2 separate regions of the Homo sapiens genome follow, and region 1 is linked to region 2. Evidence: fine-mapped expression QTL. A gene starts in region 2. The other region holds a variant in brackets. All regions are shown on one strand. Distances are from middle to middle. Region 1 holds the start of TLR8-AS1 (TLR8 antisense RNA 1). Region 2 holds the start of TLR8 (toll like receptor 8).

Region 1 (5,382 bases), 36 kb after region 2:
AGGGCTTTAGAAACCAAACCCAGACTGTCTTGATGAAAAAAAAGTGGGGGCAGAAGCTTAGCTATGGAACTGCTGCATGGGGCGACAGCCATTACTCTTTCAGTTTGGCTTGGCTAACAAAAACTGGCCTTATTATGTAAATAAAGCCCTCAGGGTAGTCAAAATCAAGAACCTTTCTCTTTTATCCCCTTTTGCTGGACTGTTTTTCCTTCTCCCTGCTTTTTTTTTTTTTTTTTCCAGCTGTGGAATTTAGCCAATTCAGAGGTCTTGTTCCCCGTAATGTGGAACTTTCCTTCAGATTTGATCAAGTTGGATAGAGTTGGTCAAACCCAATTGTCAGGCCTCTGAGCTCAAGCTAAGCCATCATATCCCCTGTGATCTGCACGTACACATCCAGATGGCTGGTTCCTGCCTTAACTGATGACATTCCACCACAAAAGAAGTGAAAATGGCCTGTTCGTGCCTTAACTGATGACATTGTCTTGTGAAATTCCTTCTCCTGGCTCATCCTGGCTCAAAAGCTCCCCCACTGAGTACCTTGTGACCCCCCACTCCTGCCCGCCAGAGAACAATTCCCTTTGACTGTAATTTTCCTTTATCTACCCAAATCCTATAAAACGGCCCCACCCTTATCTCCCTTCGCTGACTCTCTTTTTGGACTCAGCCCACCTGCACCCAGGTGAAATAAACAGCCTTGTTGCTCACACAAAGCCTGTTTGGTGGTCTCTTCACAGGGACACGCATGAAATTTGGTGCCGTGACTTGGATCGGGGGACCTCCCTTGGGAGATCAATCCCCTGTCCTCCTGCTCTCTGCTCTGTGAGAAAGATGCACCTACGACCTCAGGTCCTCAGACCGACCAGCCCAAGAAACATCTCACTAATTTCAAATCTGGTAAGCGGCCTCTTTTTACTCTCTTCTCCAACCTCCCTCACTATCCCTCAACCTCTTTCTCCTTTCAATCTTGGCGCCACACTTCAATCTCTCCCTTCTCTTAATTTCAATTCCTTTCATTTTCTGGTAGAGACAAAGGAGACATGCTTTATCCATGGACCCAAAACTCTGGTGCCGGTCACGGACTGGGAAGGCAGCCTTCCCTTGGTGTTTAATCATTGCAGGGATGCCTCTCTGATTATTCACCCACGTTTCAGCGGTGTCAGACCACCCAGGGATGCCTGCCTTGGTCATTCATGCTTAGCGGCAAGTTCCGCTTTTCTGTGGGAGGGGCAAGTACCCCAACCCCTTCTCTCCGTGTCTCTACCCCTTCTCCACTTTTCTGGGGGAGGGGCCAGAACCCCTCAACCCCTTCTCCTTCACCCTTAGTGGCAAGTCCCGCTTTTCTAGGGGGCAAGAATCCCCAATCCCTTATTTCCGTGCCCCGACCTCTCATCTCTGCACCTCAACCCCTTATTTCCGTGCCCCGACCCCTTTCCCGCTTTTCTGGAGGTTAAGAACCCTCGAACCCCTTCCCTCCATGTCTCTACTCTCTCTTTTCTCTGGGCTTGCCTCCTTCACTATAGGCAACCTTCCACCCTCCATTCCTCCGTCTCCCTTAGCCTGTGCTCTCAAGAACTTAAAACCTCTTCAACTCACACCTGACCTAAAACCTAAATGCCTTATTTTCTTCTGCAATGCCGCTTGACCCCAATACAAACTTGACAGTGGTTCCAAATAGCCAGAAAATGGCACTTTCAATTTTTCCATTCTACAAGATCTAAATAATTCTTGTCATAAAATGGGCAAATGGTCTGAGGTGCCTGACTTCCAAGCATTGTTTTACACATTGGTCTCTCCCTAGTCTCTGTGCCCAGTGCAACTTGTCCCAAATCTTCCTTCTTTCCCTCCCGCCTGTCCCCTCAGTCCCAACCCCAAGTGTTGCTGAGTCTTTCTAATCTTCCTTTTCTACAGACCCATCTGACCTCTCCCCTCCTCCCCAGGCTGCTCCTTGCCAGGCCGAGCTAGGTCCCAATTCTTCCTCAGCCTCCGCTCCTCCACCCTATAATCTTTTTATCACCTCCCCTCCTCACACCCGGTCTGGTTTACAGTTTCATTCCGTGAGTGGCCCTCCCCGACCTGCCCAGCAATTTCCTCTTAAAAAGGTGGCTGAAGCTAAAGGCATAGTCAAGGTTAATGCTCCTTTTTCTTTATCAGATGTCTCCCAAATCAGTGAGCATTTAGGCTCTTTCATCAAATATGAAAAACCCAGCCCAGTTCATGGCTCGTTCGGCAACAACCCTGAGACGCTTTACAGCCCTAGACCCTAAAAGGTCAAAAGGCCGTCTTATTCTCAATATACATGTTATTACCCAATCCGCTCCTGACATTAAATAAAACTCCAAAAATTAAATTCCGGCCCTCAAACCCCACAACAGGACTTAATTAACCTCGCCTTCAAGGTGTACAATAATAGAGACAGCCAAGTAGCAACATATTTCTGAGTTGCAATTCCTTGCCTCCACTGTGAGACAAACCCCAGCCACATCTCCAGCACACAAGAACTTCCAAACGACTAAACCGCAGTAGCCAGGCATTCCTCCAGAACCGCCTCCCCCAGGAGCTTGCTACAAGTGCCAGAAATCTGGCCACCAGGCCAAGGAATGCC[C/T]GCAACCCAGGATTCCTCCTAAGCCGTGTCCCATCTGTGCGGGACCCCACTGGAAATTGGATGGAAATCGGACTGTTCAACTCACCTGGCAGCCACTCCCAGAGACCCTGGAACTCTGGCCCAAGGCTCTCTGACTGACTCCTTCCCAGATCTTCTCGGCTTAGCGGCTGAAGACTGACGCTGCCTGATTGCCTCAGAAGCCCTGTAGACCATCACAGATGCCAAGCTTTAGGTAACTCTCACAGTGGAGGGTAAGTCCGTCCCCTTCTTAATCAATACGGAGGCTACCCACTCCACATTACCTTATTTTCAAGGGCCTGTTTCCCTTGCCTCCATAACTGTTGTGGGTATTGACGGCCAGGCTTCTAAACCTCTTAAAACTCCCCAACTCTGGTGCCAACTTAGACAATACTCTTTTAAGCACTCCTTTTTAGTTATCCCCACCTGCCCAGTTCCCTTATTAGGCCGAGACACTTTAACTAAATTATCTGCTTCCCTGACTATTCCTGGGCTACAGCCACACCTCATTGCCACCTTTTCCCCTAGCTCAAAGCCTCCTTCACATCCTCCCCTTGTATCTCCCCACCTTAACCCACAAGTATAAGACACCTCTACTCCCTCCTTAGCGACCGATCATGCACCCCTTACCATCCCATTAAAACCTCATCACTCTTACCCCGCTCAATGCCAATATCCCATCCCACAGCATGCTTTGAAAGGACTAAAGCCTGTTATCACTCGCCTGCTACAGCATGGCCTTTTAAAGCCTATAAACGCTCCTTACCATTCCCCCATTTTACCTGTCCTAAAACCAGACAAGGCTTACAGGTTAGTTCAGAATCTGCGCCTTATCAACCAAATTGTTTTGCCTATCCACCCCGTGGTGCCAAACCTATATACTCTCCTCAATGCCTCCCTCTACAACCCATTATTCTGTTCTGGATCTCAAACGTGCTTTCTTTACTATTCCTTTGTACCCTTCATCCCAGCCTCTCTTCGCTTTCGCTTAGACTGACCCTGACACCCATTAGGCTCAGGAAATTACCTGGGCTGTACTGCCGCAAGGCTTCACAGGCAGCCCCCATTACTTCAGTCAAGCCCAAATTTCATCCTCGTCTGTTACCTATCTTGGCATAATTTTCATAAAAACACACGTGCTCTCCCTGCTGATCGTGTCCGATTAATCTCCCAAACCTCAATCCCTTACAAAACAACAACTCCTTTCCTTCCTAGGCATGGTTAGTGTGGTCAGAATTCTTACACAAGAGCCAGGACCGCACCCTGTAGCCTTTCTGTCCAGACAACTTGACCTTACTGTTTTAGCCTAGCCCTCATGTCTGTGGGCAGCGGCTGCCGCTGCTTTAATACTTTTAGAGGTCCTAAAAATCAAACTATGCTCAACTCACTCTCTACATTTCTCATAACTTCCAAAATCTATTTTCTTCCTCATACCTGATGCATATACTTTCTGCTCCCCGGCTCCTTCAGCTGTACTCACTCTTTGTTAAGTCCCACAATTACCATTGTTCCTGGCCCAGACTTCAATCCGGCCTCCCACATTATTCCTGATACCACACCTGACCCCCATGACTGTATCTCTCTGATCCACCTGACATTCACCCCATTTCCCCATATTTCCTTCTTTCCTGTTCCTCCCCCGATCACGCTTGATTTATTGATGGCAGTTCCACCAGGCCTAATCGCCACACACCAGCAAAGGCAGGCTATGCTATAGTACAAGCCACTAGCCTGCCTCTTAGAATCTCTCCTCATTTTCTTTCCATTGTGGAAATCTATCATCAAGGAAATAACTTCTCAGTGTTCCGTCTGCTATTCTACTACTCCTCAGGGATTATTCAGGCCCCCTCCCTTCCCTACACATTAAGCTCGAGGATTTGCCCCCACCCAGGACTGGCAAATTAGCTTTACTCAACATGCCCCGAGTCAGATAACTAAAATACCTCTTAGTCTAGGTAGACACTTTCACTGGATAGGTACAGGCCTTTCCTACAGGGTCTGAGAAGGCCACCGCAGTCATTTCTTCCCTTCTGTCAGACATAATTCCTCAGTTTAGCCTTCCCACCTCTATACAGTCTGATAACAGACCAGCCTTTATTAGTCAAATCAGCCAAGCAGTTTTTCAGGCTCTTAGTATTCAAGGAAACCTTTATGTCCCTTACGGTCCTCCGTCTTCAGGAAAAGTAGAACGGACTAAAGGTCTTTTAAAAACACACCTCACCAAGCTCAGCCACCAGCTTAAAAAGGACTGGACAATACTTTTACCACTTTTCCTTCTCAGAAGTCAGACCTGTGCTCAGAATGCTACAGGGTACAGCCCATTTGAGCTCCTGTATAGACGCTCCTTTTTATTAGGCCCCAGTCTCATTCCAGACACCAGACCAACTTAGACTGTGCCCCAAAAAACTTGTCATCCCTACTATCTTCTGTCTAGTCATACTCCTATTCACCGTTCTCAACTACTCATACATGCCCTGCTCTTGTTTACACTGCCGGTTTACACTGTTTCTCCAAGACATCACAGCTGATATCTCCTGGTGCTATCCCCAAACTGCCACTCTAAACTCTTGAAGTAAATAAATAATCTTTACTGGCAAGGCTATGCTGAACCTCCTTAGGCACTCTCTAATTAGATGTCCTAGGTCCTCCCAATTCTTAGTCCTTTAATACCTGTTTTCTCCTTCTCTTATTCCGTTTAGTTTTTCAATTCATACAAAACTGTATCCAGGCCATCACCAATAATTCTAAATGACAAATGTTTC
Region 2 (5,382 bases):
CAGGGTTGCACGTTATTTCCATATGTGGTACTTCGCGGCAGCCCCAGTATGGGGAAGCCATTTGCTGCCTTATGAATTGTCTGGTCATCCACTCGAGAGGAAAGGGCTGTGTCCAGGGCTGGGGAAGGCCCCAAGAGTGGTTCTTCAGGCCTACTGTTGGCAACAGCCCAGGAATGTGTGAAGTCTGTAACAACAAGCGTAGTAATAATAATTCCAGCTCTGCTAGTTGAACGCTCACTTTGTGCCAGCTACTTTTCTAAGAGTTCCACGATATGAACAATTTAATCCTCAAAGCCAACATCTGAGAAAGATACTACTATTCTTATCCCAATTTGACAGATGAGAAAACTAAGGCTCAGAGAGGCTTGTCTGCTGGTGATTTGTGTGTCTGGGAAGTGCACGTTGTCTGGCAGGCTTGCCTGGCAGAAGCGGTTCATGACAGGTCTTCTCCATTTTGGAATCAAGATCTGTGTCAGCATGGATGGCAAGGGGAAGAGTAAGGAAAGATTGGTCTAGGAGATGCCCAGGAGCTTTTGGCCTCACAGTGCAGGGTGGGGAGAGCAGACCTGGCCACCAAGGACCAGTTTCTGGGCTTGGGCAGAAGCCAATCATCTGGCTACTTTACAAGCAGATGGAGCTTCTTCCTCTCAGTAACCTTCCTGCCCTGGTGTCAATTCCATTTTCATTTTCATCTTTTATGGTACTGGTTGTGTGGAGAAAACTGAAGGCTCATTTGGTATAAGTAAGTAACTCATTTTTATGAGTTTGCTTGACATAGATACTAGACTGTATGTGTGTATATATACATATAAACATGCATATGTACATAAAAAATATATATATATCATATATACATGATGATACACACACACACACACACACACACACACACACATATATATATATACGTATACAAGCATGCTTTACAAGGCCAATTGACTGGTCTACAATTGGCTGACACTTGGTGGCCTAGAAGCCAGGGTATGTGAGTCTCGCTTTTCTAGAAAGCTGACAAACTCTCCAGTTCCAAGGATCCTTGCTCAGTCAACGGCTGGAAGTCATTTTTACTTCGCTGTTTTTTGTTTGTTTGTTTGTTTGTTTTTTTAGACAAAGTCTCATTCTGTCACCCAGGCTAGAGTGCAGTGGCACTATCATGGCTCACTGCAATCTCCACCTCCTGGGCTCAAGCGATCCTCCCACCTCAGCCACCCGAGTAACTGGGACTACAGGTGCACACCACCATGCCTGGCTAATTTTTGTATTTTTTTAGAGACAAGGTTTTGCCATGTTGCCCGGGTTGGTCTCAAACCCCTGAGCACAAGTGATCCTCCTGCCTCGGCCTCTACAAAGTGCTGGAATTACAGGTGTGAGCCACTGCACTCGATCCATTCTTACTTACTTTCTTTACTTTATTTCCAAGCAAATGTTTGGAGGGAAACCAAGAGACTTGGATGCGGCCAGCCGAGGCCTTTGGGTTTACAATCACAAATGTTTTTGGTTTGCCCATGAAGGCCCAGGCTGCACTCTCTGATGTCACAGGAATCACCTCTCAAACCATGCACCAGGTCTTGAATTCCCTTAGGGTGTGATCTTTAGAGGTCCATCTAGGTATACCCACCCAAGCCATTCTTTGACTGCTGACAGGCCTTCCTTCATAACAAGGTGTTCCACAGTCCATTTATATATGGATGTCATCTCTGCCCACCCTGCTGCCAATTTGGTTTTCTCCCACTCCTGGGGTGTAAGGCAAGATGAAACATATCACATCCCGTTCTAAACTTTATTCTTGTGGCCAGGGGTCAGCAAACTTTTTCTGTAAAGGGCCAGATGGCAAATATCTTAGGTTTTACAGGCCAAGAAGCAAATTTGGCATATTATGTAGCTACTTATATAGTAAAATAAAAATTTCCACAATTATGTAATTGATGAAACTCAAAATGTAATAATAATAATCGAAGGCAGTTTTTTTGTAGTATAGGTTTAATAATGAGAAGAATGGAATCATTTTTGGAGGTGCTAACATTCTGCTTGGTTGGAATTTAAAGTTAGTGTTCTGTATCAGCAAATCCATTGCCAATGTTCATCTAAAAATGTTTTCACTTCTGGGCCGGATTTCGTTCAAAGGCTGCAGTTTGCTGACCTCTGCTCTTGGTTACACCTTTTGAGGCCCTTGCTCTCCGAGCATAAAATGGAATCCATTTATCAGACTAAATCGGGAAGATTAAATTTTCCAGCCTCACGAATGCTCAGCCATTGACTCACTCGTTCATACAATGAACACTCATTGAGCTTATACTACATGCCAGGTGCTGGAGGAGGCATGGGGCGCCCAGGAGAAAGATGCTCGCTTTGCGGCCACAGCCCAGTGGGAGGGAGACCCATACCTACCGGTGCTGTCTCAGAAACTTGTGGAACAAAGATGAAGCAATGTTCATGTTATTCGCCTACATCTGTGAATTACACAAGGAAGACGAGTTTGAGAAATCCGAAGTTCAGTACAAATTTATGGTAACTTTTTTAAAAAAGAATACACTGAAGTTTTCTTAGTGAATGGAATAATGTTCCCTTTTTCTCCCCTGTACACACAAATACACAAAAACTAACAAAAATACGTCGTGTGTGTCTGATTTGGGTTGTATTTAAATCATTTCATAAATGACTTTTTCCCATAACTTCAGTTTCAAAGTTTTAAAGCACAGTCAATTAATGATTTGGCAACAGCTAAGAAATCACAAGTTCCCTTCTTTTCATGTAAACTTCTGTAAAACACACGCTACGTTCTGCTGATGGTAAATAGAGCCATTTCAGGAAGTTAGCCAGTTTCTCTTCTCGGCCACCTCCTGCATAGAGGGTACCATTCTGCGCTGCTGCAAGTTACGGAATGAAAAATTAGAACAACAGAAACATGGTAAGCCACTTCTATTTCTTTAGCAAAGCTTTCCAACAGAATATGGGGTTTCTGACCCAGAAATCTGGGTTGGTGGCAAATGGTGTGAGCCTAGAAAGTAATAAATGGGCAAATAAGGATAAAAATTAAAGATCGAAACAACTGTAAATGCAGGTAAAGCGGCTTGCTATGATCTTTAATTTGTGCACACGTTAGTATAAAGGAATTAGAGAGTAAATTTTGAAAATCAAATGCAGTGATGATCTTACTAATTTGGACAGGAAAATAAGAAAATTTCAAGTTAGAAATTGAACTGGAAATATTACTTACTGGCCCTACCAGAGACAATATCCTCTTCCAGAACAACAGGGTTGGAAGAGAAGGTGAGGGAAATATTCTTCCTTTGCTATTTCTGTAGAAAAGGACAAACTCTCTTCCTTCACATACATAGGTCAATTGCTAGATCCTAGTGAAGCCTGAGCTTAACCTACTGTTGGAGGCTTAAAGTTCGACATTAATTGCTACTTTTCTTGGTCAGAGTTTTAAATAATTAGGTTGGTACAAAAAACTGTGATTACTTTTCCACCAACCTAATAACATGCTACAATTTCTGTAATTATTATTTTACACTGTCAAGACATAGCAGGTGGTCCGTTTTTGTTATTGTCAAGAACTGTCAGACTAAAAATGAACTTTACACTTCTTTTTAAATGATACATTTTCTAGAAAATTCAATGAGGTTTAAGAGCAATTGAAAAGTCTGATTTCAAGAGAGTCTCATCCAAAATGTACTATATATTTTTCCCCAAAGTCCTTGGAGTTAATTTTGACAACAATTTAAAGTACACTTAAGTCTTTTGAAGTTAATGGGTCTGCCACCCAGGTTGGAGTGCAGTGGCGTGATCTCAGCTCACTGCAACCTCCGCCTCCCGGGTTCAAGCGATTCTCCTGCCTCAACCTCCCAAGTAGCTGGGACTACAGGTGTGTGCCACCACGCCTGGCTAATTTTTGTATTTTTAGTAGAGACGGGGTTTCTCCATGTTGGCCAGGCTGGTCTCGAACTCCTGACCTCAGGTGATCCGCCTGTCTCAGCCTCCCAAAGTGCTGGGATTACAGGCATGAGCCACCGCGCCCGGCCTGAAGTTAATTTTTATACCCACCTAATGTTCATTATGGATCTTGAAGGTAAATTAATTCTGCACTAAAATTTTACAATGCTTTACAAAATGACTGTAGGTGGCCCATATGGAATTCGGTCAACTGGGCCAATGACACATATGGGATTGCAGTTGAAATTATCCAATTCCTACTTGATATTTGTAAGCTGCTGTGATAGCCAGTATAATTGTACTGTAAGAATGTGGTAAATAGCCGGGGCCCGGTGGCTCACGCCTATAATCCCAGCACTTTGGGAAGCCGACGTGGGCGGATCACTTGAGGTCAGTAGGTAGAGACCAGCCCGGTCAACACGGCAAAACCTCGTCTCTACTAAAAATACAAAAATTAGCCAGGTGTGGTGGTACGCACCTGTAGTCCCAGCTACTCAGGAGGCTGAGGCAGGAGAATCGCTTGAGCCCATGAGGTGGATGTTGCAGTGAGCAAAGATCGCACCATTGTACTCCAGCCTGGGCAACGGAGTAAGACTCTGTTTCAAAACAACAACAACAACAACAACAACAGATTGGTAAATAGAGTAATAATAAAATCAAATTAAACTTGCAAAAAATGGCCACTTTGCTCCCACTGGTGGCCAATGGAGGTCAAGGACCTGGCTGACCTCCTGCCTAAAGGCAGAGGTTGTTAGCCTTCGCAATGGACTCAAATCAGAGGGGGAGCTTTCAAAACTCCTGCTGCCCAGACTGAACCCCAGATCAATGAAACCAAAATCTCTGGATACAGGGCTTGGCATTTGTAGCTTTTAGAGTTCCTAAGTATCTCTACTGTGCAGCCAAAGTTAAGAATCAGTGCCTTAGAACATCAACAGTTTTTTGGTCCTTTTGTTAAAAAGCACAGTCCGTTTTTTTAGGTGGCTAGAAATGCTCCAGGAAGAGCTGAAATGTATTTACCAGCCACCTTGGTTTGATTTTAGAAAGCAAAATAGAAGTTCTAAGTATGCTTTCTCTGAAAAGCTGAGACTGCAGATAAGAGTGAGGGCAGTTGATGGAGTTCATTCTCCTCTTTCAATCACTGCTTCTCATCCTTTCATTATAATAATCTAAGAATCTCAGAGATTATGAAAGAGAAAGCAGTCTTATGGAAGACCCCAGACTCACAGAATATTAGGGTGTGTTTCACAGGGAAGGATGTCATTACCCACAGTTAGTCTTTGAAACGCAGTTGGACATTATTTGTAAGTGCATCATAGTGTCGCCTCCAGGTTCCATTGAGGGGAACGTCATTCCAATGCAACATCTCTGAGTTCATCTGGGTTATTAAATGGGGTTGAGGGATTTGTTATTTTTAAATTAGTAGCCCCAATTTAGGACTACTCAAGA

Evidence for each region. PIP is the estimated chance that this variant, and not a neighbour inherited with it, causes the effect.
Region 1: its variant is the best candidate, but not a certain one, in a credible set for the expression of TLR8 in blood mononuclear cells (TOPMed, PIP 0.87).

Annotation. Positions count from the first base shown.
Region 1 is chrX:12,939,531-12,944,912 of GRCh38, forward strand. TLR8-AS1 (TLR8 antisense RNA 1) reads right to left here and starts at 3,770. Exons shown (of 5, transcript NR_030727.1): 1 at 3,648-3,770; 2 at 2,688-2,804. The variant C/T (reference allele first, on the strand shown) is at 2,603.
Region 2 is chrX:12,903,802-12,909,183 of GRCh38, forward strand. TLR8 (toll like receptor 8) reads left to right here and starts at 2,819. Exons shown (of 2, transcript NM_138636.5): 1 at 2,819-2,908. The coding sequence starts at 2,906. TLR8-AS1 (TLR8 antisense RNA 1) reads right to left here. Exons shown (of 5, transcript NR_030727.1): 3 at 4,415-4,532; 4 at 2,389-2,450; 5 at 1-184.